Linked DNA regions of Homo sapiens: regions 1 and 3 are each linked to region 2. Evidence: fine-mapped expression QTL. A gene starts in region 2. Each other region holds a variant in brackets. All regions are shown on one strand. Distances are between the middles of the regions. Region 1 overlaps PPEF1 (protein phosphatase with EF-hand domain 1). Region 2 holds the start of PPEF1 (protein phosphatase with EF-hand domain 1). Region 3 overlaps CDKL5 (cyclin dependent kinase like 5).

What was found. PIP is the estimated chance that this variant, and not a neighbour inherited with it, causes the effect.
Region 1: its variant is the best candidate, but not a certain one, in a credible set for the expression of PPEF1 in spleen (GTEx, PIP 0.88).
Region 3: its variant is the best candidate, but not a certain one, in a credible set for the expression of PPEF1 in testis (GTEx, PIP 0.61).

What each region holds. Positions count from the first base shown.
Region 1 is chrX:18,782,489-18,793,652 of GRCh38, forward strand. PPEF1 (protein phosphatase with EF-hand domain 1) reads left to right here. Exons shown (of 16, transcript NM_001377996.1): 9 at 1,411-1,560; 10 at 6,633-6,785. Among named protein-coding and RNA genes, the nearest start is that of PPEF1, 80 kb to the left of the region's middle. The variant A/T (reference allele first, on the strand shown) is at 5,410.
Region 2 is chrX:18,701,683-18,712,846 of GRCh38, forward strand. PPEF1 (protein phosphatase with EF-hand domain 1) reads left to right here and starts at 5,963. Exons shown (of 16, transcript NM_001377996.1): 1 at 5,963-6,144. The coding sequence starts at 6,099.
Region 3 is chrX:18,565,395-18,574,722 of GRCh38, forward strand. All of the region lies in intron 4 of CDKL5 (cyclin dependent kinase like 5), which reads left to right. Among named protein-coding and RNA genes, the nearest start is that of RS1, 100 kb to the right of the region's middle. RefSeq lists an enhancer at 295-857. The variant C/A (reference allele first, on the strand shown) is at 3,594.

The sequences.
Region 1 (11,164 bases), 81 kb after region 2:
ATGCTTTAGGAAAGGTAATAGGCCAACTAGTCAGAATGCATGCCAATAAAATACAAGCACAGCAGGAAGCCCTGGCCACAGTAGAGTCTTATATTTTCTTTCTGGATTAAACCACACTTTTTCATTGTGAGTTTTGTGTAAGTTTTAGCATAGATACATATTTCATTGCTTCAAAGGTACCAAGGATTTGTTTTACTTAGGTGTGGTAAAATATGCAGACACAGAAATGACTGTCATGAAGGAAGAGATTTTTATTTACAATTCTCTAGAAAATGGAGGCACTGCAAGCCACTCTGGGAGACCGCGTGGGGAAGCACCAGAGTTGGTCAGAAGGCAGAGGGAGGCTGAGCACGGTGGCTCACACCTGTAATCCCAGCACTTTGGGAGGCTGAGGCCGGTGGATCACTTGAGGTCAGGAGTTCGAGACCAGCCTGACCAACGTGGTGAAACCCTGTCTCTACTAAAAATATAAAAATTAGCTGGGCGTGGTGGCATGCTCCTGTAATCCCAGCTACTCGGGAGGCTGAGGCAGGAGAATACTTGAACCCAGGAGGCGGAGGTTGCAGTGAGCCGAGGTCGTGCCACTGCACTCCAGCCTGGGCAACAGAGTGAGACTCCATCTCAAAAAAAAAAAAAAAAAAGAAGGCAGAGGGAGGGTGGAGGGAAGCATCTGAGTGTAATCTGGTTTAGGACTGACCAATTTGAGTAATTTCAGACTGCTCTGGGCCACAGAGGTTGTCCCTAGTTGTCTGGTAACTGGCCCCGGGATGAGGAGTGTGAGAGCTCCATAAAGAAGGTAGCTGGGGTGTGGGCTCTCGGTTGCTTGGTTTGCATATGAAGGGCGAGTCATTGACTATCTAGGAATTAGCTAGCCCCGGGAGGGACAGTCTCTCCTCCAGAGTCAGCAAGGCCCCAAGATGTCATAGTATCAAAAATACAGAATAAAGGGCCAGGCATAGTGGCTCACATCTGTAATCCTAGCACTTTGGGAGGCCAAGGTGGGCGGATCACCTGAGGTCAGGAGTTCGAGACCAGCCTGGCCAACATGGAGAAACCCCGTCTCTACTGAAAATACAAAAATTAGCCAGTCGTGGTGGCACACGCCTTTAGTCCCAGCTACTTGGGAGGCTGAGGCAGGAGAATCGCTTGAACCTGGGAGGCAGAGGTTGCAGTGAGCCAAGGTGGCGCCACTGCACTCCAATGCGCAACAGAGCGAGACTCCATCTCAAAAAAAAAACAAAAACAAAAACAGAATAAAAAGACATGATGAATACATGCTAATTGGTTAGTGACTCCTTGCTGACTTCCTTTGAGTGGCCTGAAAATCATTACTTTTTGTCCATACTTGGGGACTATTCAATAAACTGAACCTGTCAGAAAAACAAAACTTACTCAAGCTCTTACTTACAGCTACATGGAAAAAGAATCTTACAAATCTTGGAAGAATTCTATGCCTGGCTCCCAATCGGTACAATCGTTGACAATGAAATCCTGGTCATCCATGGTGGGATATCAGAGACCACAGACTTGAATTTACTCCACCGTGTAGAGAGGAACAAGGTAAGAAGTAATGTTGGCATGAATCTTCTCTCAGGGATTTAGAAGGGAATACATACCTCTTCATTTATTATTTTGAATTGATTTGTGTTTTAGTGGTTGTAACTCTAAAAAGATTATAGATTTTATTAGAGTATATAAAAGTATAAATTTTAAGAAAAATCTATGACTGCATGATAAAGAACTAAGTGGGTAACTTCTATATATGGAAAAAAATTTTAAATTCATGTTGAGGGTGGAAAAATGAGGAAATGTTGGCATTTTATGTAGTTTCTAAAAGTGAAAAATCCTGATTTTTAAAATTAAAACCTCAATTCATTCATTTATATTGTGGTAAAATATACATAACATAAAACTTGCCACTGTAACCATTTTTAAGTGTATAGTTCAGAGGTATTAAGTATATTCACATTGTTGTGCAACCATCACCATCACTACCATCTATTTACAGAATTTTCCATCATCCCAGACCGAAACTCTGGACCCATTAAACACTAACTCCCCATTCTCCCCTGTCCCAGCCCCTGGCAACCACCAACCACCATTCTACCTTCTGTCTACGAATTTCACCACTCTAGGTACCTTATATAAGTGGAGTCACTTATATAAGTGCAGTTTATTTCTGAATTGATACGATTTCCCACATAATACACATCAAATAACTTAGGATACTTTTTTTGGAAATATTTTTTTGAAATGTTTAAATAATCATGTTAAATACAAGCAGAGCAGGAGCTAGTATGGAACCTCTGAGACAAGTGGCTATGTGGTGACTGTGAAGATCTCACGCCTAGTGAAGGGTTCCTTGGACGGGTCTTGCAGGGTCATTGGAGTTGTCTTCCTCCTCTACTCAAGCCAAGAGGAAGCCCTCAGGCTAGAGGTGTAGGGGCGCCACATGGGTTGAAGACCAGTAACAGCAGTGGAGCCAGATGATGCTATATGGTCCTAGTGGGAAACCTGAACTGTTACCCCTCAGGACTGATCATCAACTTCCAACCAACCTGGACAGGTGGGGTCTAGAGCTGGAATTTAATCTGATAGAGACAGAAATGTGACCCCAGTGGCACCTTGACTTCTTGGACCCTTTATACACATGTGAATGAGAATGTCGTTGCTGGTATCCTCCCATCTTTTTAATTAAAGTTTAATAAGTCTGACCTCCAGACCAGATGAGATCCCCTTTTGTATACTGTCAAGCCCTTTGTACATATCTTTCATCACAGTTACCGAATTTAAGTAAGAAATTGTGGTACTGTTTGTTTACTATCTTCCTCTGTTTTTCTAGTCCATTGATAAAACCCCAGCACCTGGGATGTAGTAAGTACTTAATAGTCACTGACTATCTCTTGAGGGATTTAAGATCAAAGCAGGGTAAACCTAAGACAAAACTGAATAGAAAGTTTTTTACAGCCCTCTCCTGATTCTGTGGTGATTTTACATACCACCCTTCCCCACCTCACCAACTGATGATGATGCTTCCTGGCTTACACCTGTTGTCCTATTGTAATTATTAATAGCACCTCCTTTTACTCTAAAAAAAAAAAATCCCAGTTGCAGCCAGGCATGGTAGCTCACCCCTGTAATTCCAGCACTTTGGGAGGTTGAGGTGGGCAGATCACTTGGGACCAGGAGTTTGAGACCAGTCTGGTCAACATAGCAAGATGTCATCTCTACAAAAAAGAAAAAATTAGCCAGGTGTGGTGGTGCACACCTGTGGTCCCAGCTACTTGGGAGGCTGAAGCATGAGGATTGCTGGAACCCAGGAGTTTGAGATTGCAGTGAGCTATGATCGCACCACTGCACTCCAGCCTGCATGACAGAGAGAGACCTTGTCTCAAACACAACAAAACCCAGTTGCAATAAAACTTAAGCCCACTCTAAGTTTAAGGTACCTTTCTCATTATATCAGTGAGTAATCAAGCCAATAAGACATTTTGATCAAGATATAATAGTCATTATTAACATAATGAGTGGATTAGATTCTAACCAAGAGCACAAGGGAACATGATGTCTTTGTCAGTCAAATATTGGTGAACACAGGGCATGAATGCCACATTCCATCACCACCTGCCCTATGACTACAGTGCTAATCAGTCATGGCAGCCTCTTCCAATTGACCAGATTGAACACTTTTGCTTTCCTGAGGTTAGCCTGAGCAGCCAGCTCTATCGAGGGCTTTTTGAGATATTGAGAAGATGCCTCTGGGATGTCCCTCACTAGCTCTGTGGAGATCCCAAGTTGAGGGCCACCTTAACATAGTAAAGACTGTGAGGCTCTAAGATTAGACAGACAGAACTAGGTTAACATCCTGCCTCTGCCCCTTCCTGGGTGACTGGGCAACATACTGAGGTTTTCTAATCCTTGGTTTCCACACGTATAAACTGAAGATAAAAATACCTACCATATTGGATTTTTGGGAGGATTAAATGTAATTACCTATATGAAGAAAATGGTGGCCAGGCGCAGTGGCTCACGCCTGTAATCCTAGCACTTTTGGGAGGCTGAGGTGGGCGGATCACTTGAGGGTAGGAATTCAAGACCAGCCTGGCCAAAAAGGTGAAACCCTGTCCTTACTAAAATACAAAAAAATAGCTGGGCATGGTGGTGCACACCTGTAATCCCAGCTACTTGGGAGGCTGAGGCAGGAGGATCACTTGAACCCAGGAGGCAGAGGCTGCAGTGAGCCAAGATCAAGCCACTGCACTCCAGCCTGGGTGACAGTGAAACACTATCTCAAAAAAAAAAAAAAAAAAAAGAAAAGAAAAGAAAATGGCATATACTACTAAACATATAGCTTTCTCCTCCAGTTCTCTCTTCTTTTTTCCTTATACTTGGTTCTGAGGTTTGTGTTTCAGTCACCAATACAGACCCTGGGGAGAGTTTGTGGGCCAGCCATTTTCTCAGGATACCTAAAGTTTCACCCCCTTCAGGGATAACTGTTCTACCTGCTCTTTAGACTGGCTTTAAAGATAGAAATTCAACTTGTATATTGTTTGTGTCTTCTACCCTTCCTTGAGTGAGGTTGAACTGGTAACACATACTTGTTGTATTAAATATCATTGAACTGTAGTGAAAATGATAGGTTCAACCATTTGGAACTCTATCAGATGAGACATAAAAGTAGATTGTTCCAGTCCAGTTTTATAATCCCCACTTTCCCATCCCATAGGACCCTCCAACCCTCTGTGGCAGGAGGGACCATACTTCCTGGTTTACACCTGCGGTCGTAATGGTATCATTGTTAACAGGGGTTGGGAAGGGTTGGGGGAATTTGATGACAACCTCTATTCTAGGTTCATTTAAGGTATTTTGTAAGGTGGGCAGGTTGAGGGGGGTCAATGCAGAGGGATTAAAGAATGAAGGAAGATTTTCTAAAACTAAGATTCTGGTTTATTATTTGTCAAACTCCCCAGCAAGGCATTTGCAGAAAGATGGCTACTAGACTCCCTGGGGGAAAATGGTCGTGTAGTGCCTTAGGGAGAGCTGGGGCAAAGTATCCTGATCCCAAATGGCCTTGAAAACTTCAGAGCCACACATACTTAAGAGACCATGTGGCCTTGCTCAATGAGCTCATCAGAAATGAGTTGTGTACAGCTGGGCACGGTGGCTCATGCCTATAGTCCCAGTACATTGGGAGGCCGAAGTGAGACGATCACTTGAGACCAGAAGTTCGAGACCAGCCTGGGTAACATAGCAAGACCCCATCTTTACAAAAAAAAAAAAAAAGAAAGAAAGAAAAAGGGAAAAAGAAGTGAGTTGTGTGGACCCAAGTCCAGAGGGTCCTCCCAGAATATTCTGCTCTGCCCCTAATGGGAACATTTGCTGGCAGGAGACAGGGCAGGTAGGCTGTGA[A/T]CTAGCTAGCAATAGCTGAGCTTGAATTTCTACCTAGCTCAATGAGACAGGACCTCAGAATAAGATTCAATTTCATTTTTGAAAAATAAAGGTAAGATTTCCTACACACTCTAGTTTGTAAAAGAAACTAAGTGCTTGGCCGGGTGCAGTGGCTCACGCCTGTAATCCGAGCACTTTGGGAGGCCAAGGCGGGCGGATCACGAGGTCAGGAGATCAAGACCATCCTGGCTAACACGGTGACACCCCGTCTCTTCTAAAAAATAGAAAAAATTAGCCGGGCGTGGTGGCGGGCGCCTGTAGTCAGTGCTGAGGCAGGAGAATGGCGTGAACCCGGGAGGCGGAGCTTGCAGTGAGCCGAGATCGCGCCACTGCACTCCAGCCTGGGGGACAGAGCAAGACTCTGTCTCAAAAAAAAAAAAAAAAAAAAAAAGGAAACTTAAGTGCCTACCACAGAGAATTTGTCTATCACTGAACCACGGCCACCAGTATAACAGAAGTATTGTTTAATATTGTTTTGTTTAAAGACATGGTGCTACAAAGAAACAAGTATAAAATTACAGTCTCTGCTTGTGTAAGGGAACAAGAGGGATTCTAGTAATTGATGCCCTATCAGAAAGACGTTTTGTTTTCCAAAGAAACGCAGCAGTTTTGTTGCCAAGATTAGAGAACATCGTCAATGGCTGGCAGAGTCAGGCTGAGAACCACAATGCATTTAGGTTGGAAGGGCTTCTGAAGTTTTCAACCTATGTCCCCTTTAAGAACTTTCTTGGACACAGATGTACCTTTTCTCTTTTCTTCTGGAAAGCATAACAAAATGCACAGCAGCCACTCTATTAAGAGGTGTTTCTGAACTCCTGAAGATCCTATGGCTAGATAAAGGCTCAATAAGGAGACTCGTTGCCCCTACCTTGGTATCTTCCATTTTCTGTGTGGATGCCACAGAATGTGTTTAACACCTATAGAGAAACTCCAGTGAAACACAGAAACTCTTTCTTTATAGGCAATGTCTGTAATTGGAAAATGTACCAACAATGTAACAGACCCACTTTACAGACATCAGTGGATGAGTGAGATATAGGAGGTGGACGAGATGCAAAAAGTGACCGTGTGTTTTTCATTGGGTTGTGGCACCACAACATAGAAAGAATCCCACCTGGGACTGAAGTCTCTGTATGTGGCAGAATAAGCAGAGGGTTGGACTAAAGCATGAATTTGTTTTATAGATGAAATCTGTGCTGATACCACCAACGGAAACAAACAGAGACCATGACACTGACTCGAAGCACAATAAAGTAGGTGTGACTTTTAATGCACATGGAAGAATCAAAACAAATGGATCTCCTACTGAACACTTAACAGAGCATGAATGGGAACAGGTAGGTAATCAGGGTGTTCACTGCAGTGGCAACAATGACACTAGCGTGCATGTTGTCCCTTACAATATATAGATAAAAAGTGACTTTACCTTTACGAGGAGACCACATGATTCTCTTGGAATTCATCACTATATTTTTAACAGCTTTATTGAGATATAATTCACATACCATGTAACTCACCCATTTAAAGTGTATAATTCAATGGTTTTTGGTATATTCACAGTGTTGTACAACTAGCACCACAATCTAATTTTAGAACGTTTTCATCATCTGAAAAAGAAACTACATACCTATTAGCATCATTCCCCATTCCCTTCTGTAGCCACCCTGTGCCACCTAACAGCCTTAGGCAACCATCAATCTACTATCTGTCTTTACAGATTTGCCTATTCTGAACATGTTGTAGAAATGGACACATATGTGATGTTTTGTGTCTGGCTTCTTTCACTCAGCACAATGTTCTGGAGGCTCATCCATGTTGTAGCATGTATCAGTACTGAACATCTATTTGTTGCTGAATAATATTCCATTATATGGATATACACATTGTATTTATTCATTCATAAGCTGATGGACGTTTGGGTTGTTTCCACTTTTTGGCTACTATGAATAATCCTTCTATGAGCCATCACATACAAGTTTTTCTGTGCATGTATGTTTTTATTTCTCTTAAGTGTGTACCTAGGAGTGGAACTGCTGAGTCATAAACTAATTCTAAAAAAGTTTAACATTTTAAGAAAGTCCCAAACTGTTTTCCCAAGTGGCTGCACCATTTTACATTTCCAGTAGCAATGGATGAACGTTCCAATTTCTCCACATCCTCTCTAACACTTGTTATTGTCTATCATTTTGATTATAGCCATCCCAGAGGGCATGAGATGGAATCTCATTGTGGTTTTGATTTGCATTTCCCTAATGACTAATGATGTCAAGCATCTTTTCATGTGTTTATTGGATATTTGTAGATCTTCTTTGGAGAATTGTCTATTCAGATCCTTTGCCCATCTTAAAAACTGAGTTATTTATCTTTTTATTATTGCATTGTAGGAGGTTTTTTGAATATATTCTAAATACAAATCCTTTATCAGGTATATTATTTGCAAATACCCTCTCCCATTCTGTGGGTTGTCTTTTCCCCTTTCTTGATGGTGTCCTTTGCAGTACAGCAGTTTTTAATTTTGGTGATGCCCAGTCAAAATGATATATTTTTTCTCTTTGGTTGCTCGTGTTTTTGGTGTTGTATCTAAGCTATTGCCTAATCCAAAGTCATAAAGATCTATTACTTTGTTTTCTTCTAAGAGTTTTATACATTTAGCTCTTAAATTTAGGTGTCTGATCCATTTTGAGTTAATTTTTGTGTGTGGTGGGAGGTGAGATTCCAAATTCTTTCTGTTTTATGTGGATATTTAGTTATCCCAGCACCAATTTTTTTTTTCTTTTTTTTGAGACAGAGTCTCGCTCTGTTACCCAGGCTGGAGTGCAGTGACACGATCTCGGCTCACTGCAACCTTTGCCTCCTGAGTAGTAGCTTGGATTACAGGCATGCATTACCACGCCTGGCTAATTTTTGTATTTTTAGTAGAGATGAGATTTCACCATGTTGACCAGGCTGGTCTCAAACTCCTGACCTTAGGTGATCTGCCCGCCTCGGCCTCCCAAACTGCTGGGATTACAGGTGTGAGCCACTGTGCCCGGCCACCAGCACCATTTCTTAAAAAGACTATACTTTCCTTGTTAAATTTTCTTGACACCCTTATCAAAAAATCAGTTAACCATAATAAAAGGGTTTATTTCTAGACTCTTAATTATATTTCACAATCTCTATGTTTATCCTTATGTCAGTACTGTACAATTTTGATTACTGTAGCTTTGTGGGAAGTTTTAACATTGGGAAGTGTGAGTTCTCCAACTTTCTTCTTCTTTTTCCAGATCGTTTTGGCTATTCTGGGCCCCTTGAATTTCCATATGAATTTTAGGATTGATTTGTCAATATCTACCAAAAAGCAGCTGGGATATTGGTAGGGTTGCCTTGAATCTGTAGGTCAATTTGGGTACTATGGCTGTCTTGAGATGTCTTTCCATTTATTTAGATCTTTAATTTCAACAATGTTTTTTACCTTTCAGTATACACGTCTTGCTCTTGTTTTGTTAAATTTATTCCTAGGTGTTTTTGATGCTATTGTAAATAGAATTGTTTTCTTAATTACATTTTGGATTGTTCATTGCTAGTGTATAGAAATACAACTGACTTTTATATACTGACATTGTGTTGTGAACTTTGATAAACGTATTAGTTCTAATGGTTTTTAGTGGATTTCTTGAGATTTTCCACCTACAAGATTATGTTATCTGTGAATAATTTTACTTCTTCCTTTCCAATCTGTCTGCCTTTTCTTTTCCTTTTTTTTCTTTTTGCTTAATTGCCTTGTCTAGAACCTCCAGTACACTGTTGAATAAAAGTGAAGAGAGTAGATGTCTTTGTCTTGTTCATGATACTGGGGAAAGCATTCAGTCTTTCATCAAGTATGATATTAGCTGTGTATTTGTTTGTAGTGGCCTTTTATTACATTGAGGAAGTTTCTTTCTATGCTTAGTTTATTGAGTGTTTTTATTGTGAAAGAGTGTTGGATTTTGTCAAATGCTTTTTCTGAATACATTGAAATGATGTGTTCTTTCCCTTTATTCTATTAATACAGTATATTATATTGATTGATTTCAGAGATGTTAAACCAACCTGACATTCCTGGGATAAATCCCACTTGGTCATGATGTATAATCCACCTTCTATGTTGCTGGTTTCCATTTGGTAATATTTTTTGAGGATTTTTGCATCTATATTCATAAGAGCTATTGGTCTATGGTTTTCTTATGTTGTGATATCTTTGTCTGGTTTTGGTATAAGTTTGGCCTCATAAGAGGAATTGGAAAGTATTGTCTCCTCTTCTGTGTTTTAGAAAAGTCTGTGAAGGATTGATTTTAATTCTTCAAATGTTTGATAGAATCCATCAGTGAAGCCATCAGGGCCTGGGCTTTTCTTTGCAGGAAGTTTTAAAATTACTAATTTCAATATTTTTCCTTGCTATAGTTGTATTCAAGTTTTTTGTTTCTTCCTGAGTAGTTTGTGTCTTGGTAGTTGTGTCTTTCTTGGAATTTGTTTCATTTCCTGAAACAAATTTATTTCATGAAATTCATTTCATCTAATATATCTAATTTGTTGACCTAAAGTTGTTTGTAGTACTTCTTTATTTTTTTTTCTCCTGAAAGTTTGGTAGTAATATTTCCTTTTTTTTGTTGGTCAGTCTCACTAAGGTTTGTCAATGTTATTGATCTTTTTGAAGAACCAACTTTTAGTTTTATTGATTTTTCTCTATTGTTGTCTATTCTCTATTTCATTTATTTCTGCACTAATTGTTAACAGTGGAGGGTGTCCAGGTTCTTGGCGTCTTGAACAATGAATTGGACAAAACGCACAAACAAAGCAAGGAAGGAATGAAGGGTTTTACTGAAATGAAAGTACACTCCACAGTGTGGGAGTGGCCCCGAGCATACGGGCTGAAAGGCCCTGTTATAGAATTTCTGGGAGTTTCAATACCCCCAGAGGATTCCATTGGTTACTTGGGGTACACCCTATGTAAATGCAGAGTTTGAAGTAAAGTTACAAAGTCATTTACAGCATAAGCCCAATGGAGAGGATATTTCCTGTCATAGCTGAAGTGTGAACTGGCCTTATGTTCCCTGCCTCCAGACCTTATTTTCCTGCCTCATAATCTTTATCATTTCCTTCCTTCTGCTTGTTTTGGGTTTAGTTTGCTCTTCTTTTTTTCAGTTTCCTTAGAAGGTAATATCATTGACTTGAGATCTTTTTTATTTTTTAACAAAGATACAAATTTCCCTTTAAGTACTGCTTTAGCTCCATCCCTTAAGTTTGCTATGTTATTAAACAATTGCTGCTGCCTTAAAAAAAATAGTTTTGCTATGTTGTGCTTTTGTTTTCAATAGTATTGTCTAAATATCCTTGTGATTTCTTTAACTTATCTGTTATTTGGTAGTGTGTTGTTTAATTTCTACATATTTATGAATTCCCCATATTTCTTTCGCTTATTGATTTAAAATTTAATTTGATTGTGGTCAGCGAACACATGCTTTGCCTGATTTAAATTCCTTTAAAACTTTTTTTCTTTTTTTGGTAAATCCTTTTAAAATTTGTTGAGGCTTTTTTTGTGGCCTAGCATATGGTTTATCCCGGAGAATGCTCCATGTGCACTTCAGAAGACTATATATTTCACTCTTATTGGGTGGAGTGTTTTATATATGTCTCTTTGAACATATTTATAATAGTTGCTTTGAAATCTTTGTCTGCTAAGTCGACGTCTAGTCCC
Region 2 (11,164 bases):
TGAGAGATTCACAATGTATGTTCATATATTAAAGGCTCTGAGAAGTCCTGCAGTAAAGAAACCTGTCCAGCTCTACATCCCCTGAACTTATTATGTAATAGTGGGACCTTTATTTTGGCCTTAGTCCTAGAATAATAAACCACATAGAACTATTCTTCCACAAACACACTTTGGAAAACCTGGCACCAGGCCACGCTGTTTCCTGATTACAATCATGTCTGATATACCAGCAGACACTTTCAAACACCTTCTGGTGGTCAGTATAGTTTCCTCCCTTTTCTTATCCTCTCATGTGGCGAGACCCAGGAAGAATCACCAGCTTGGTCTTACAGACCTCCCCTTACTCATTTAAGACCCCAGACATAAGTAATTGCTCCACTGTTCTACTGGAAAGGTAGTGATGGAAGGGAACTCTCTGGCACGGGCTGCCAGGGACTCCTCTGCCTCACCCTATGCCTCTGCATTATATTTAGGCCACAGACATCAGGCTATAAAACCTCTGTGGCAATGAATACCAAGCAGAATGCAATAGGGTGAGCCTGATGAGGCATCTGTTCCTCATGCTAGCACAATCTACGGGGGAAGAATTACACCTGCCTGCTTCACTCCCACTGTGGTGGTCGGGGGTGGGGGTAGAGGGTGTTGGTATCAGTTGAATGACTATGGGTTCCAGGTTTTCAGGACTAGAGCTAAAGCCAATTTCTTGCTAAAGCCAACATCTCTAGGAAAAGCTGAATTCTAGCATAGGAAACTACGAAACTGACATCTAGAATGCCAGAGAGGGTCGTGTCAGGGTGGCTGAGCCAAGGTGTGGAAGTTGGATAGAGATGAGCTTAGAAATCAGACCACCTTAAGAATGAACAAGAACAACTCGGGGAGGCTGGGCTAGTGGTTGGAGGGTGCTTGGTGGCGAACGTTAGTTTGTCCCCACGGCCTGTCTTTTGTACTTTCCTTGTATTTTCAGCATTGGAAGTGAAAGATTAGCATGAAAAAAATGGAAAATTATCAGTTCCACCCAGTCACCCCCAACACACACACAGTAAAAACCTTTTAGCGGAAGGCTTTCCTTTTGCAAATTATAAGTGAGTGCCAATGATGAGTCATTATTTCATGTTTACTCTTTAAAACCATCCTTGGTATATATTAGAAGGGACAGCAGCAATGGGCAAGTTTCAAGCTGTTTTTTTGCCAAGATCCACCCAGCGGCTCATGTTACCCACTAGGACATTCTTGGGCGTTTGTGAACCCTGTGGAAGCCCCCCACCTCTTTGAGCCTGAGAACCCTTTTCAGGCCTCAGGGAATCACTTCTTCAGAGACTTCTTCAATGCACTTAAACGCTAACAGAGGGTGGGAAATGGAAGCAGCTTAGATTTTACCAAGTCATGGAAAATCCCCAATCATTTTTATCAGCTTTACGTCAGAGATGTCCTCAAAGGCTCACGCACTGCTTACAAACTCACTTCCCTCTCTCCTGGAAGTCTAGGTGGGGCAGTACATGGGAGGGGTAAGTGGCATCTTGCTTTAACCAGCTCATATTTTGGTGAGAATGAAAAAGAACTGACTTTTTTTGTAACCTATTACCTGAGAGAAAAACAGTTAAAAATAAACTGATAATAATTATTTAATAATGTAAAAATTATTATAGCCAATTTTTTCTAATGGATAATCAAAAAATTCTAGAACATCATGTCTTTCCATCATGATTTTAAAACTTTCTTTAAAAATTATGTATAAGTACTACCCCTTTCTGATTTAATAAAATGCTTTTGTATAATTGAATAGCACCTACCTGTGCACAAAATGATGGATTAATAATGACTTTTAGCAACTAAATTTTTAAAGAACTCTGGCCTAGGAATATTGATTCCTTTGTTCATTCATTCATTCATTTAGCATTATCCAACATCTGCAATGTGAAAGGCACCATGTAGGTGCCAGAGATTCAAGGGCTACTTTGGAAGTTGCCCGTGGGGCTAATAGTCTAACAGAAATATACTCAAGTTTGATGCTTTTTAGTTCTTACTGAATCTTTTATATGCAGTTGTGTTTGTTGTGGATTAACTGAGGGGTGACTGAAAACCAAATGCCTCTGGAGAGATATTGAGACAGTGCTTTTTTTTTTCTGGAAAAAGAAAATCGAAATTGAAATATGTCAATCAGTCCAATCAGTGTTTATGGCCTACTAAATGCTCAATTCTTTTTTTCCCCTGTTTTCTTTTTTAAATTAAAAAACATACCTTTTTTTTTTTTTTTTTTTAAAGTCAGGATTTCACTCTGTCACCCAGGCTGGAGTGCAGTGGTGTGATCACGGCTCGCTGCATCCTTGACCTCCCAGGCTCAGGTGATCCTCCCACCTCAGCCTCCTGAGGAGCTGGGACTACAGATGTGCACCACCATGCCTGGCTAATTTTTTGTATTTTTTGGTAGAGATGGGGTCTCCCTATGTTGCCCAGGCTGGTCTCGAACTCCTGGGCTCAAAGGATCCATCTGCCTCAGCCTCCCAAAGTGCTAGGATTACGAATGAGAGCCACTGTGCCCAGCCCCAATTCTTATGTCTTCATAAAAAGGGGTGGAAAAAATAGCATGAGGATGGAGCGAAGCCCAAGCGAGATTTGGATACTGTTGGAAAATAGTGTTTCTTCAACTGAGATATGGGGATTCCTTGCATCAAAGTTCTCGGCATGGTGCACTTTAAATGTGTATTCCAAGGCACTGGACTTTTGAATCTGAGTATTGTTAGTAAAGCCTGGGAATCTGCATCCCCCCACCCCCAATAAGTCTTGTGAGCACTCGAGTTGGAGAGCACTGATCTAGGCACCTGGAGAATGTCACCAGGACTAGATGAATTCCTAGATGAACAGTGCCCCAATTTCAAAAATGAGAAAAGAATATATGCTAGAAGCCACAGACTTGATATGACCTCTGGAAAAATTCAGCTTGAAATAGATGGAGCCAAAGCATTTCTAGGAAAATGTGATCATCACTATGCAGCACCGTGGGTTTTCTAAAATACCGTCTCTATTACAGATTGTCAAACTTTGTTGTGTATTAGAATCTGGAAAACTGAAAAAAATCTTGATGCCTCATCCTCCACCCAGTACCAATTATGTCAAATTATCTGGGGGTGGGACTTGGGCATCAGTATTTTTTAAACCCCAAGAGATTCTGACTTAATGAGGTGCAGGCTGAGTACTGGGAGTTTGAAAAGCTCCCCAGGTGACACTCATATGCAACGAAGTATGACAAGCACAGGTCTATATGACATGGGACAAGTTGCTTAACTTCCTTGCACTTTGTGTAAATACTAGGTAATTTTAAAGGTCTCTCTCACCTTTAAACTTCTATGATTTTGTATTAAAAATGTTGCCAAATTGATTTCCTTCCTTTCTTCCTCCCCTGCCCTTCCTTCCTTTTCTCCTCCTCCTTCCCTCTCTCTTCTTTTGCTGGAATAAGCTGGAATGTCAAAGTATCAAAATATATACATATCATCATTTTATTAAAATATTTAGTAAAATTCTCCAGGATGTCTCACAGATAAATGAGAGTTATGATAGGTGAGTTTACCAGCTAACTGAACAAATGTGCTCAGCGAGTATGAAGGTAACGGATCTGTGGTGAACCTGGAGGATGGTTTGGAGTGGGATGCCACAGGGCTCATCCTGCCCTTGGATCTGATCTTGTTAATGTTCTTTAGCCATGATGTAGATAAGGAAGACACGAAAGAAATGCCTATCGAATTTGGAAATAAAGCCAAGCACGGTGGCTGATGCCTGTCATCCCAGCACTTTGGGAGGCTGAGGTGGGCACGTTGCTTGAGGCCAGGAGTTTGAGACCAACTTGGGCAACATGGTGAGACCCCATGTCTACAAAAAAGTACAAAAATTAGCTGGGCATGGTGGCGCATGCCTGTAGTTCCAGCTGCTCAGGAGGCTGAGGTAGGAGAATCACTTGAGCCCGGGAGGTGGAGGCTGCAGTGAGTCATGGTTGCGCCACTGCACTCCAGCCTGGGTGACAGAGCGAGACCTTGTCTCAAAAAATAAATAAAAATTTGGAAGTAACCCAAAGTTTAGGAAGGCTAATTCATTCAATACATAAAATAATCAGGTTCACCTCTGGTCAGAAAATCTGTTTACTAAGCTTATTGTTATTTTCAAAACATGGCCATAGTTCAAATATTTTGCTTATTTTAGTTTTCCCTTTCTTCAGTCGAGTTGAAATTTTGAAGCTTTTGGTGTAGTACCAATGGAAAGATAGATATGTCAGTTGTTTGCTGACTTTGTGCCTGTCAAGAAATGCAAATAGGGCTGGGCAAGATGGCTCACACCTGTGATCCCAGCACTTTGGGAGGACAAGGTCGGAGGATCACTTGAGCCCAGGAGTTTGAGACCAGCCTCGGCAACATAGGGAGACCCTGTCTCTACAAAAAAATAAAATTAGCCGGGTGTCACGGCACATGCTTGGGAGGTTAAGGCTGCAGCGAGCCGTGATTGTGCCACTACACTCCATCCTGGGTGACAGAGTGAGACCCTGTCTGAAAAAAAAAAAAAAAAAAAAGGAATGCAAATATATTAGATCAGGTTGGTTTGGAGCATCACAAAATAAAGGAAACATCACCCTAAAAAGTGACGTGACAGTATACTATGGAAAGGAATTTTGTTGAAAACTCCCGTGAAGTGATTATGGGAGTCAGGGAGCTCATGAGAAGGACTATAGAACACAAAGTTAGACTCCAGAGGGGCCTCAGCAGTGCCCAGAGAGCTTGTTTAAAAGGGCACTCTTGGCCAGGCACGGTGGCTCACGCCTGTCATCCCAGCACTTTGGGAGGCCGAGGCAGGTGGATCACCTGAGGTCAGGAGTTCGAGACCATCCTGGCCAACACAGCAAAACCCCGTCTCTACTAAAAATACAAAAAATTAGCCAGGTGTGGTGGCGCATGCCTGTAGTCCCAGCTACTAGGGAGGCTGAGGCGGGAGGATCACCTGAGCCTGGGAGGTTGAGGCTGCAGTGAGCTGTGATCACACCACTGCACTCCAGCCTGGGTAATAGAGCGAGACTCCGTCTCAAAAAATAAAATAAATAAAAGGACACTCTCACAGATTACAATTCCTAAATTTGGGGGGAGGTTTCAAACCTCCTTTTTTTTTTTTTTTTTTTTTTTTTTTTGAGATGGAGTCTCGCTTTGTCGCCCAGGCTAGAGTACAGTGGTGCGATCTCAGCTCACTGCAACCTCCGCCTCCTGGGTTCAAGCGATTCTGCTGCCTCAGCCTCCTGAGTAGCTGGGATTACAGACATGTGCCACCATGCTTGGCTAATTTTTGTACTTTTAGTAGAGACGGGGTTTCACCATGTTGGCCAGGCTGGTCTCGAACTCCTGACCTCGTAATCCGCCCGCCTCGGCCTCCCAAAGTGCTGGGATTGCAGGCGTGAGCCACTGCGACCGGCTGCCTCCTTTTTTTTAAAACAAATGTTCCCAACTTATTCCGCGAAATACTGTCAAAGAACTCACTTTGAATTTCAGCATAGCTGTTAAATATGTTGTTTTTGTCTCATAGTCAACTTCCAATTTGTGTTTTTAAAAGCCTAGATAGGTTGAATTACTTTGAGCTGAAAACCAAAACAGTTAATTATGTCAGCTCCTCCACATCCCATTCCCCATATTTAAATTAGAAAATCGTACACTCTCATATTTCGATTTTTCTTTTCATTTTGAATGCTCTATTTTATACAGAGCTGGATGTGACCTAGACATGGAGAAACTCATTTATGTCTAGCAGAGAAGCAGCCTATAGCTGCTCTGTAGCTGCTGCTGTGTTTTGGAAAATAAGCCAGGATTAGATTATGTCTGATCACTTTCCACATCACATGATGAACAGCGATTCAGAAGAAGCGTAAAATGAATCCTGCTGAGCAGCCCCTCAGCTACCATGTGGTTAACTGGCGGTTTCCTTCCCTCCCTCCTGTGTATTCCTCATTAGAATCTATGACTGAAGAGGATCGGCTAAGAGTGGTTCCTCGCAGCTTAAAGGGAGGCACTTTTCACACTCTGTCTTAAAATCAGAAGTTGAATTCATGAACACATATGATTTAGATAGAAGTCATGGGATGCAGCAGTTCTTCAACGAAAACCAGGAGATCTGACACATGTGAGTACTGGGAATGTGCCTGTGGTTATGAATGAAAAGGGGAAAATGAGCTGCCCTCACCCTCTTCTCCTTTCTCATTTACTCCCACGATGCTCAAGCTGCCCTGTGTGATTTGCACAAGGCATCGTTAGAGTAGCATAGGAAACTACATTTAGGAAGATGTAGCTTTGAATTTATGAAGTACCATAAAGTATTGTCTTAGAGATATTTTGTGTTTGATTTAATTTCATTCGATAATGTACCAATATAAAATCTCAATTTAAAACTCAGTGGCAGGGAACAAGAAAGGCAGTGTAATTTATATGTGTTTCTTCAATACTTTTATAAATAGCTATATCCCTACTTTTGTGACATTTAGTAGCATCATTGAATTTTTATTGGATTTTATAACTCAATGATCACATTATTTCTATATCTATTCAACACAGAACTTCATGAGATTTGCATCACGTTTTAAAAATAATCTAGGAGAATTGGGAGAATGCTAGATCATCTGTTTCCAAAAAAAAGGTGTATTGTTTCTAAATAGATGGCATGCCTTTCTGTACCCCCATATAATTAGAAGCTTAAATATTCACTTTGTTTATTTTGTACTGAGGTTCTTTCTCATGGCTATTGGCATCTAGTTGAAACAAACTTGAGCATTTAAGGGATAGAGTTTCCAACAAGCAAATTAAAATAAAAACAAGTAAATAAGCTGGGACAATTAATATGAGTAATTTGCTCTTAAACTCCACTTCTTTGATGTCTAGGTTATAGGTAATTCCCCCAACTTCTATTCCACGTCTTGCCTTTGGAAGTTTATTCAGGCTTAAGGTGGAGGGTTTAGGATGCAGAGTGTGCTATACTAATTAGCGTGGGATGTTTTACTTTGGGAATCAAATGTTATTCTCCTACCCAGCTGACTTGTGCTGATGATGTAGGAAACTCATCTCTGAAAGTAGGAAGGGACATAGGAGGTGTACTGACTCTTTCAAATCTTTAAGCATGTCATGAAATAAATCTTTCAAAAGCTCCATCTGAACTCTACTGCTGTAGTAGACGTTTATTAGCAGAGAGTAAAGAGAAATTATCTTTTTATATCTAGGATTACTCACAGTTCTTTAAATTTAGCCAAATTTCCTAGGTTAAAAAAAAAAAAGCCAAGTCCAACTTGTAAAAACAAATCCTCTCTCTTTTTGAAATACTTTTCAACTTTTAAAACATTGCATGTAAGTGGAAATATTAGCTTAGATTTTTGGATTGCTTTTTCTTTCAAATACCTGTGATTTATTGAGGTGAAATTCACGTAACATAAAATTAGCCATTGTCAAGTGAACAACTCAGCAGCAGTTGGTATGTTCACAGTGTCGTGCAACCACAACCCCTATGTACTTCTGAGACATTTCCAACACTCCAAAGTAAAACCCCTTATCCATTAAGCACTTTCTCCTCTCAGCCCCTGGCAACCACAAATCTATATTCAGTCTCTATGGATTTATCTATTCTGGACATTTCATGTAAATGGAGTCATATATTATGTGACCTTTTGTGTCTGGCTTTGTCCATGTTGTAGCATGTATCAGTACTATATTCCTTTTTATTGTGGAATAATATTTCATTGTATGAATATGCCACATTGTATTTATCCATTCATCAATTGATAGACATTTGGATTGTTTCAGCTTTGTTTTTTGTTTTTTGTTTTTTTTGAGACAGTCTTGCTCTGTCACCCAGGCTGGAGTGCAGTGGGGCGATCTCGGCTCGCTGCAACCTCCGCCTCCCAGGTTCAAGCGATTCTCCTGCCTCAGCCTCTGGAGTAGCTGGGATTACAGGCACACACCACCACACCTAGCTAATTTTTGTATTTTTGGTAGAGACAGGGTTTCACCATGTTGGCCAGGCTGGTCTCGAACTCCTGACCTCAGGTGATCTGCCCGCCTCGGCCTCCCAAAGCGCTAGGATTACAGGCGTGAGCCACTGTGCCCGACCTGTTTCAGCTTTTTGACTGTTATGAACAATGCTGCTGTGAACATATGTTTTCCGTTCTCTTGGGTATATACCTAGAAGTGGAATTGCTGGGTCATACGGTAGCTTTATGTTTAACATTTTGAGAAATTTCCAAGCTGTTTTCCCAAGTGACTGCACCATTCTACATTCCTACCAGCAGTGTATAAAGGTTTCAATTTCTCCACATTTTCAGCGATAGTTGTTATTGTCTGTCCTTTTGATTTTAGTCATCCTAGTGGGTATGAAGTGGTATCACACCATGGTTTTCATTTGTATTTCAGTAGTGACTAATGACATTGAGCATCTTTTCATGTGTTTATTGGCTATTTGTATATCTGCTTTGGAGAAATGTCTATTCAGATCATTTACCCATTTTTAATTGAATTATTTATTTTTATATTGTTGTAAGATAAATTTATATATTCTAGATACAAGTTTCCTATCAAATATGTGACTTGCAAATATTTTCTCTCATTTGTTGAATTCTCTTCATCCTTTCTTAATGGTGTTCTTTGAAGCACAAAAGTTTTTACTTTTGATGAAGTTCACTTTATTTTTTCTTTGGTTGCTTGTGATTTTGGTGTCATATCTAAGAATCCATTCCCGAGTCCAAAAAGATTTTTGCTCACGTCTTACTTTAAGAGTTTTGTAACAACTCAACAAGAAAAAAAAGATAACTCCATTAAAAAGTGGGCAAAGGTCATGAACAGACATTTTTTCAAAAGAAGGCATACAAATGGCTAACAAACACACGAAAAAAATGCTCAACATCACTAATCATCAGGTAAATGCAAATTGAAACCATAATGAGATACCACCTTACATACCGGTCAGAATGGCTATTACTAAAAAGTCAAAAAATAAGAGATGTAGGCAAGGATGTAGGGAAAAGGGAATGTTTATCACTGCTGGTGGGAATGTAAATTAGTACAACCTCTGTGGAAAACATTATGGAGATTTCTCAAAGAACTAAAAATAGAGCTACCAAACTACCATTTCATCCAGCAATCCCACCACGGAGTCTACCCAAAGGAAGTCATTATATCAAATAGATATCTACACTCTTATGTTTACCGCAGCACTATTTACAATAGCAAAGATATGGAATCACCGTAAGTGTTTTTCAATGGATGATTGGGTAAAGAAAATGTGTGGTGTATGTATATGTAAGTGTGTGTGTGTGTATATATGTGTGTGTGTGTATGTGTGTGTATATATACGTATATATGTATGTATGTGTGTGCATATATATATGTATATATATGTGTGTGTGTGTGTATATATATATATATGCATGCCATGGAATACTACTCAGCCATAAAAAAGAATGAAATCATGTCTTTTGCAGCAACATGGATGGAACAAGAAGCCATTATCCTAAGTGAAATTACTCAAAAAACAGAAAGTCAAATACCCCATGTTCTCACTTAAAAGTGGGAGCTAAATAATGTATACATATGGGCATCCAGAATACAATAATAGACACTGGAGACTCAGAAAGCTGGGAGGGTGGGAGGGGGGTGAGGTATGAGAAATTACCTAATGAGTACAATGTATGCTACTTGGGTAATGGTTACGCTAAAAGCCCAGACTTCATTATACATGTAACAAAATTACACTTATACCCCCTAAATATATATGTTTTTAAAGGCCAAAAAAAGTTTTGTACTTTTAGCTCTTACTTTTAGGCATTTGAACCATTTTGAGTTGCTGATTTTCACGTATGGTGTGAGGTAGGAGTACAAATTCATTTTTTGCATGTGGATATCCAGTTGTCTCAGCACTGTTTGTTGAAAAGATTGTTCTTTCCCCATTGAATCCTCTTAGCACCATTGTCAAAAATCAATTGACCATAAATGTTTATTTCTGGGCTCTCAATTCTATTCCAGTGATCTGTATGTCTTTCTTATGCCAGTACCAGTGTCTGGATTACTATAGCTTTTTTTTTTTTTTTTTGAGACGGAGTCTTACTCTTGTAGCCCAGGCTGGAGTGCAATGGCACAATCTCAGCTCACTGCAACCTCCGCCTCCCAGGTTCAAGTGACTCTCCTGCCTCAGCCTCCGGAGTAGCTGGGATTACAGGCACAAACCACCACATCTGGCTAATTTTTGTATTTTTGGTAGAGACGGGGTTTCACCATGTTGGCCAGGCTGGTCTGAACTCCTGACCTTGTGATCCGCCCGCCTTGGCCTCCCAAAGTGCTGGGATTACAGGCATAAGCCACCACGCCAGGCCTACTATAGCTTTTTTTAATAAAGTTTTGAAATTGGGAAGTATGAATTCTTCAACTTTGTTTCTCTTTTTCAAGATTATTTTGGCTATTCTGGGTCCCTTACATTTCCATATGAATTTTAGAATCAATGTGTCAGTGTCTCAAAAGAAGCCAAGTGGAATGTTGAGAGGGGTTGTGTTGAATCTGTAGATCAATTTGGGGAGTATTGCTATATTAACAATTAAATAATCTGATCCATGAACATGGGATGTCTTTCCATCTATTTAGATCTTTAATTTCTTTCACCAGTGTCTTGTAGTGTTCAGAGTATAAGTTTTACACTTCTTTCCTTAAATTTAACCTAGGTTTTTTATTCTTTTTGATGATATTATACATGGATTTTTGTTAATTTCATTTTTGGATTGTTTATTGCAAATGTTTAAAAATTGATTTTTGTATATTGGTCTTATATCCCAAAACTTTACTGAACTCATTAGCTCTAATAGGTTTTTAGTGGATATTTTAGGAATTTTTATTTACAAACCAGGTCATCTGCAAATATAGTTTTACTTGTTTCTTTCCAATGCCTTTTGTTTCATTTTCTTGCCTCCACTACAATGTCAAATAGAAATGCAAGAGTAGCCATCCTTGTCTTGTTCCTGATCTTAAGGGAGAAACATTCAGTGTTTCACCAGTAAGTCTTATATCAGCTGTGTCTTTTTCATAGATGCTCTTTCTCAGGTTGAGAAAACACACTCCTATTCCTAGTTTATTGATTTTTTTATTATTACAAAGTGGTGTTTAATTTTGTCAAATGC
Region 3 (9,328 bases), 140 kb before region 2:
TCTTTCCTGTTCATGTAAATGCCTATTGTGACATCAAATGGATTGATTTCACTACTAGTAAGTCAGAGCCTGCTATTTGAAAAACTATGGTCTAAGAGTAAGAAGTACCAACACAGCATCAATCTTCATATCTAATTAGAAGTGTGGAAATAGCAGTCATAGCTTACCTTCATCAGCACACATCCCCTAAGTGATGTAAGACACCAGCCTCTATATTTATGAACAGTTTCATCACCCTCACCTCAAAGACTTAGCAAACATTAAATAACAAAAAGGGACTTGCTCCAGGATAGATGTAGTAGTATTTGATGTAATCCATCTCTGATGTGCTAGTTATATGAAACACATGCATATCAGCTGGGAACTTTAGCAGTCATTGTATGGGCAGGCTTAAAGGGAAGGTAAAAAGTGGAAGGTAAAAAAGAACTTTTTGCTTGTTCTGGGGGGACAAAAAAATCTTGCTTCAAATGGGATATTTGTGGTCTAGCAGGAAGCAGTAGCTCCAGGCTATCCCACTGTGATACCATTGGAAATGAGCTCTTTGAGCAGTGACTTTGGGTCAGCAGGTGGCTGAGAGACAAATGGTGATTTCCTAAAAAGAATGGTTGCAACAGTAGATCAAAGCACAACCTTCGCATGCATGTAAAGGCTTCTGGCTGTGCATTCATCTTTCAGGGCATATTGGCAAGCATCAGTTACCACCAAAAATAATAACTGTCATCAAATTTTGTAAAAAGTACAATCTAGGCCATGTATGCCACCTTTTTTTGTTTATGAGACAGGGTCTCACACTGTCACCCAGGCTGGAGTGCAGTGGCGCAATCTTGGCTCACTGCAACCTCCACTCCCCGGGCTCAAGTGATTCTACAGCCACAGCCTCCTGAGTAGCTGGGATTACAGGTGTGCGCCACCATGCCCAGCTAATTTTTTGTATTTTATTTGTAGAGACAGGGTTTCGCCATGTTGCCCAGGCTGGTCTCAAACTGCTGAGCTCAAAGTGATCCGCCTGCCTTGGCCTCCCAAAGTACTGGGATTACAGGCGTGAGCCACCTTGTCCAGCCCCATTACTTTCTTTTTAAGTAAATACCATGTTCTTTATAATCTCTGTCTTGTGCATACCAATTCTTAGCTTCAATTATATATTTTTACCTGTGTTAATGATACCTTTAGAGTGGAAATCTAGTGTATCCGTTGAAATTCATTGAGCACTGAGTGAAGTGCTGTAAGAGTTGAGGTGTGGATACTTTCAAGAAGCATATGACCTATTAGGAGAATTAAGACCTGCAAATAAATAACAATAAAACACAGTAGAAAACAGTTATTGCCTGAATGGAGACATGGAACTTGGATCATTTTGAGGTGAGAGAAACTGTTTCTGGACGTGGTATTGGGAGTTCATGAATAGTCTAGACGTGGAAGACATTTGATCTGCCCTTATTTTATTGAACCAACAAAACATTAATCTGCTCTGCCCTCATCTCTGCCAGACCCTTATCACTCACCATCCCTCAGAGGCATGCAGCCTTATCACCCACCCCACCTTGTCAATGACACCTACGTACCACCTACACATACTTCTAGAGGGATACTTCCAAAACATTTCTGTGCTAGAACCCAAAAACATAACCAATTATTCATAAACTTTTTCATTCCAGTCTGGCCCACTTACCTACTGTTTACATTTCTCCCAGGGAGATACTAGTACTCTCTTTTTTCTGTCTTTACCCTTTTCCTCTGGCTGGAGTAGTGTCTTGCTTAATGGAAAAAAGGGTACATGTTTGGTGAACAACTCTTTTGGAGTGTGAAGTGTATATAGATAGTCTCATTCAGGTAAGGATGTCTATTCAACCCCTGGGTAAACCATTTAATTCTCAATCAGTTTATTAAATTTTAGCCAATTATAATAAAAAACAGTGTCGTGATAATATTGCCCTCATTGTCATGTAGCTCTCATTAATCCCCTTTATTAGTTATTCTTGAAATATTCATTTGATATTATGGCAGTGATTATCTAGATCTAATGTTTAAAAGTCTTAGTGAAGATAACGAAATAATCCTGTAAAAATATTGTTAACTGAAATAGGATCTGCACTTGGTCTGAGCCATGTTCAAGGTAATCCAGTGCAGATGCTCCTTGACTTGTGATGAGGCCACATCCCAGTAACCCATCATAAGTGGAAAAAATTGTTACGTACAAAATGCTTTGGCTGGGTGTGGTGGCTCACACTTGTAATCCCAGCACTTTGGGAAGCCGAGGCAGGAGGATTGCTTGAGCCAGGAGTTTGAGACCAGCCTGGGCAACATGGCGAGACCCTGTTTCTACAAAAAATTTTTAAAAAAATTAGCCAGGCATGGTGGTGTGTGCCTGTAATCCTAGCTACTCAGTAGGCTGATGTAGGAGGCTCGCTTGAGCCCAGAAGGTTGAGGCTGCAGTGAGCCGTGATCATGCCACTGCACTCCAGCCTAGGCAACAGAGTGAGACTCTGTCTCCAAAAAAAGGCTTTACTACACCCAACTTACCACACATCATAGCTTTAGCCTAGCCTCCTTTAAACATGCTCAGAACACTTATGTTAGCCTATAGTTGGGCAAAATCATATAACAAAGCCTATTTTATAGTAAGGTGTTGAATATCTCATGTAATTTATTGAATACTGTAGTGAAAGTGAAAACCAGAATGATTTTATGGGTATTCAAAGTATGGTTTCTCATGAACGCATATGGCTTTCATGCCATTATAAAGTCAAAAAATCGAAGTCAAACCATTGTAAGTCGGGACCATCTATTCTCTCACTGATATCACGGAATATTTTGTGAGAATATATGTTAATTTCTGGTAGCTTTAAAAGATTATGCTAATGTCCTACTTTCTTGTTAAATTCATATATATTCACAAATTTATAAAAAATGTTTGTGAAACTATATTTTGTTAGACTACTATTTAGTTCAAGAAGTCTTTATTATCCCAGGATGATAGATCACTATTTAAAATGGGAATCAAAATTTCATAGTAAATAAAAGTTTATTTTGGGACTTTAAGTGGATAAAATGAAACTAAAATTATGAAAATAAGTTTATAGTTAACACAAGTTAGGTTATAGTAGTAACTAATATGCTATTTCAAGAAAGAATGAAGTGTTAACCTTTTTGGGAGGAGGAACAGTTTTTACAGTAAAATTGTAGGCTAGGCCAATGAATAGCTTCTATAGTAAAGAGGGTCATTAAGAAATATACAAAAAGCTTTGTCAGTTTTCTCTTCTTCTTCTTCTTCTTTTTTTATTCCTGTCTATGTGTCTTCTTTTTCAGGCTGTGTGTGTGTGACAGGGTCTTGCTTTGTATCCCAGGGTAGAGTACAGTAGCATGGTCATGGCTCAGTGCAGCCTTGAACTCCTGGGCTCAAGCAGTCTTCCTGTCTCAGCCTCCCAAAGTAGCTGGGACTACAGGTGCGCACCACCACTCCCAGCTAATTTTTTCATTTTTTGTAGAGGCAAGGTCTCGCTATGTTGCTCAGGCTGGTCTCAAACTCCTGGGATCAAGAGATCCTCCTGCCTCAGCCTCCCAAAATGCTGCGATTACAGGCATGAGCCACCAAG[C/A]CTTGCCTTTTCGAGGTTTTTATTTTCTAGTTGTTAGCAGATACAATTCTATCAGACAATTTATCAGTGTCTTTGCCTGTGATTCTCTCTGAAAGACTTTGACACCCTGACTTGGGGATATAGACTCCTATTAAAAAGGAAGAATGTTTGAGTAATGAAAAATTTTGTCTGAGCTTACTTCATTAGTTAATTTTTTCTTGTTTTGATGACTTCTGTTTGTTGACCCTTCATAAATTTGGAGTCTGTGATAATGAGTTCTTTAAGATAACCCTAAATGATGGTATTATAAGTTTGGCTATTAAGTTCCTGCAGAGAAATTTTATCTAGTAAACACCTGACCAACCAGAAGTCTCCATTGTATTCGTTCTGCTCATTGTAATAGTTCTGCTCATTATTTGGATTTTCTGAGAAGGGAAAAAATGACCATAGATCATAAAGATACTAGAGATTATTTAGTTAAAAGGTACTTTTCAGACTATGTATAAATTATAAATTTAGTCCAGTTCTTCTACCCTTTCTATGACTCCCATCTTCTACAGTGAGATTTGATGTTCAGATGATAATGTATCACTGTTGTTTTGTCAAGACAAGTACAAGTGTCTGCTGTCCTCAATTTATTAAATAACCCAAGAGCGCTGATTTAGATTATATAGCTTTGGACCAGCAAGAATTCAAAATATTGTCTGTCCAGCCTTTACTTTAGGAAAACCTATTGTCTAGAATTTATTTTTGACATACATTTGGACCTTCTTTTTGCTTCTTTAGACTTTTCCATCTTTCCTTAAATGTAAGGTGATGGAGTGAGGGGAGAGCCTCTCTGCTTGTCACTGGGCCTCTGTGCATGGCAAGGAGGCTGACTCCAGGGAGCTATACACTAGTCTACATTTAAGATGAAACTTAGGTTGTGTCTCTGCTTTTATATAAAATAAAATTACTTGCATTTCGTATTCTGCTGAATGTTTTCTATAGAGAACTATTTTCCTCTTGGAATGGACATATTCTTCTTAATTATTAGAAAACATTTAATTGATCATCTGTTCTGTCTTCTAATTTATTTTATTCTTCTGTTTACCCAGACACTGGAAAGCTCTATACTGATCTCTGGATCAGGAGTACTCTGGTCTCTTATTTTATATAATGGTACAAAACCAGAGTTCGTAATCTGGAGTCCTTAAATTCAAGAGCCTGATTTCTGTGTGAAAGAGGCCTTGAAACAAAAAGTCCAACCCTTGATTAAACAAATAATTTGATTAACTGAGCTTGAGCATTCTGGCTAGTCATGATTTTACCACACTTCCTTTTCATGTTCAACATGGACCTCCTTCAGACTTCAGGGATTCTTCTAGGATTTGGTGATCATTTTGCATCTTCTGTGATTTAATAAATTTCTACTGTGCTTTTACCTGTTCTTCATCTCTAAAGATTGGAGGGTCCTCATCTTTCTTGGTGTATGTAACAGTAGCACTAGCATTCAAACTCCCTCAGCCACATTGTCTGTCTATTGATGTCCCTTCTTCAATAAGAGCAACCAGACTCAAATATGGTACCCCCGTGGTTTTGATCAAGGATGGGTTGATTTTTCTTTATCAGTTTATCTGTGTAAAGGTCCATTTGGGGTGGGGGGCTCTTTGGCTATACAAAAATGTCAGGTTTGTGATTTCACAAAGTAGGTTACAGCTATTCCTGGATTTCCTTTCTAAGCCCACAGTTCTTTAAAAATAGAGTTACAATAGAGTTTCTGCTCATCTTTAGATTTTTCTCTTTTCATCAGTTATCTTTGAATCTCCTTTGCTCCTGTGATCTTTCTTCTTAAGAATTGTTCTCTTTAGCAAATCGCTCTTGATTTTTAGGTGTGTTAACTTGCCTTACTGGTAAGTTTAGAAGTAGGACAGTTTTTGGGTTGTTTTTACTTAACATCCTTTTTCCACCCTGCCATTTTGTCCTCACTCAGTGGGGTTTCTATATATCTGCACATAACTTTGTCAGAGTTGATCCTGCATTCAGCTAAACCCCCTCAGTGGTAACTGATGACAAGATGGGTCAGCATGCACATAAGCAGTTATCACATAGAAGTATGGACTCGGGAAGAGTCCTTCTGAATAATCCAGTATAACTCAGCCCCAGTATACAGATGATGGACCTCAGGCTCAAAGTTGCATAGCGTGTATGTGAATAATTGCAACTAAAATGCTGACCCAGGATCTTTGTTGAGTTTTTCTTCCACCCATACTATGCCGCCTTGCCGTTCAGCTAAATGGTAGCATAGTTATACCTGAACCTGGGTACTGTGACTCACTTTCCAAAACTCACTGTATTGTATACTATGCCACCTTTGTGCCTGTGTTCTACTCAGACTATGAGGTTGAATATGACCCTCCATTCATGCACCCTGAGAAAGTTATCCTTTCTAGACTTGATTTCTTCATTTGTAAACTGGAGCCCAGCCTTGATAAAGAATCCTAGCCTAGACAAAGAATCCACGGGGATTATTTCAACTAGATGGCAGTGATTTTTGTGCTCATTTCAGTGGGCTGTGCTACCACCCTTTGAAAATGCCTTACTGAATGCTTTTTGTAAGGCATTTTGTAATGCCTTGCAAAATGCTTTCCTACTTTGTGTACCTCTGAGAAGAGAAGCCTGTGTAATTGGAATGTGCCTTCCTTCTCCCCTCATCTGATAATTTAGTTGACAGTTTTCATCATAAAGTGCAGGGCAGGCCAGGAACCTTCAAAGTACTTAGAAAAACAAAATTATAGGATGTACCCAGTAATAATGAAGAGTGCCCATTTTGCTTGAATTTAGGGAATTAACTCCACTTTCTGCCTGTTCCCATTCATTGCAATCTTAGTGCTCAAGTGTTTACCTCAACTTTTAATACTATGACTGGCATAAAGTAGAAAAGCCTTTATTTCCTAAAAACAGCTGCTCCAATGAGGTTGTTTGGGCACTACATTCTAGGTAATTTTGTGTGCTGCTTTTTGATGATTCATTTATCTTCTCTAACCATTGTTAAGTGGAGTCAATACAGATTCGAATAATGTATGTATAACAAAGCAGCCAAGTTCCATGAGGTTTAGGCTCATAATCAATACAATTTTAATGAAAAGAAATAATAGATTATTAGACTTGAAAAAGGCAATAGGATTTTTGGGAGATGGAGGCATTTATTTGTTTCTTTTACTGATGAAAAGTTAAGTGGCTTGCCTAAAGTTGCATGGTGTACTGTTAGTTGATTAAAAGACCGAGTCCAGAATCTAGGTCTCCCTAGTTAGTCCTGGTCCACTGTTCCTTCTACTAAAACCATCCTGATGCAGCCATTCTGAAGAGGGTTTATTCATTAGCAAAGTGAAACTGCCACAAGTTGGTAATAAATAATAGTACGATGTTTTTTCATTTGCATTTCCAGTACCAAGAATTCACAAAGCATCATAGTTTATGGACGCTCTTAATGATTTTATTTTTATTTAGGTATTTGTGTGCATGTACTTGTGTGTGTTCTTGACCCTGAGCACTGTCAGTGTTCTGTATCCTCCATCATTTCTAATCACATACTGTAGAAGACACCTAGGGACAGAGGTGAATAGGGAGAAGAGAAAATTCAGTTTATCGTACTGCCTGATAAGCGGTGCTTGAGGAAATTGACAGTGCTGTAAGAAAACTGAGAGGCAAAGTGCCTATTGTTTGCCCTCCCGTTGCTGTGGCTGAAGTGAGGAAGAGTTACGCATGTATGGGCAGAGATTTCCTTATGGCCACAGGTGAAGCATTCATGTAGGAAGAATGTATTGATCACCTCTCCTTGTGTCAGGTACAGTCCTGGTGTATATTGTTGAACAGAAGAATTGAGTCCTGTCCTCCATGAGCTCTTGATTTAGCAGGGATGGCTGCATAGATTGCATACCACTAAGCAAACAAATATATCAAGAAAAATGGTAAGAAGTTCTGTGAAAGAAAAGTCCAGAACTGTGATAAGGAATAATGGGGATGGAGGCCTACTTGCTTTTGTGGTCTGGGAAAGGCTCTAGAGGAGTGATATTTAAACTAAAACCTGAAGGAGCAAGCCCTGTCAAGAGCCTATGTAGTAGACTGAGCATTGTAGGCAGAGGGAGCAAGTCTGAAGGCCATTAAGGTGGAAAAATGAAGTTTGGGGCTATTTTGGGAACTGAAAGATGGAGGTGAGGGAGAGGGACATGAGATGGGGATGGAAAGGCAGGCACAGACCAGGTCATGAGTAATCAGTAGACTTGTCTCTTGTTAAATTAGTCCCTTGTTAGATCATTTGTTTCTTATTTGAGATCTGTGTGTTATTCTGTTTCTTAGAGATAGATGGATTTTAGTTTGATTACCCCAACCTTGAGTAACTCAGAGGGGATATTAGAGAAGCATGTTCTCGATCTTGCTTCTTTAGGAAACTGCCGGTGTTCCTGTGCTTCAGCAGCTGCAGCTACCTTAGCATTCTAACAGTCACAGAACACCACTGTTCTGGCTCACCCCCAACTTGCAGAACACCTGGACCTTTGTCCCCTCCCAATGCTCTAAGCTACTTTGGGATGTCCCCGATTGCATCTCAGACATTCCCCCACTGCCAGGTGACATCCACTGTCATGCTCTTTTCCCTGTAAGTACCCAGTTCCCTGTTGACTGCCTTGGTGTGATCCAGGTAATTCGCTGCTTATGCCACAGTTGGCCTTTCCTACTGCTGGTTCTTGTCTTCTCATAGGCAGTATCTCTCTTGGTCCTAATCTGTGTTCCAGTGTTCTCCAACAGCTTTCTGGCTAAAGTAGAATACTTCATTTATGTAACCAGTTCACAAGGGAGTGTTGACTCCGTGTTCCCAGTTTGTTATGGATACTCGGGTGCTACAAAGCCCTTGCTTTTATGTCATTCCCTTTTCTTTAAACTCAGTTTGAGTTGGGGGTTGGGAAAGGGGGCTGGGATAGAAAATAATCTGAGGAAACATTCCTGGGTCTGCATTTAGAATCTTCCCTCTCCCTTTGGAATCCATTCAGCCTTTTTCCTCCTGCGTGCCTTGGTTAGAGAGCCTTTCTTCTAGAGGGCATATCAAGTAGGCTTCCGTGCCCCTATCTCCACACTCCATTTTCCTCCTTCTCACACTGAAAGATGTGTCTAATCCTGAGGGTCACACAGCTCTCAAGCTAGGATTCTGGCCCTTACCCAAAAGCTTGTGGCTACATGTGTTTTAGACTTCATAATTTTTGGATTTTAGAATGGACGTGTGGCATGTTATAATGCACAGCACTCAGTAATCAAGTAGTATTTCTATAGCACAACATATGAATGTTCATATTAGATTGGATAAACAAAGACTTTATGTAGTCTCCTGTCAGTTCAGGTGTTACCTCTCAGTGAATTTGCCCCAAACTTAGAAAAAGCTTTCAGTTTTTAGACTGTGTTTTGGATTTTGGACTTGCAGATGAGGGATTATGAACCTGTATCCTGGTACATACATGCAAAAACATGGTAGTTAGGATTTCCCGGGTAAATCTAAAGGTATAATAAAAACTAATTTAAATAGAAATATTATTTTCATCACTCCCCTGCCAATTAATCTATTAGAGTTAATATGACTTCTGTCCTTCCTCCATAACCACGGAGATTATCATGAATGAAGTTGATGGTATGGAAGAGGGTCTATTGGTTCAGCATAAGTTCTCCATCCCAGAACAGCTACACCATCTGGGATGGACAGATGGACATGCCACAGGGAGGACAGCAGG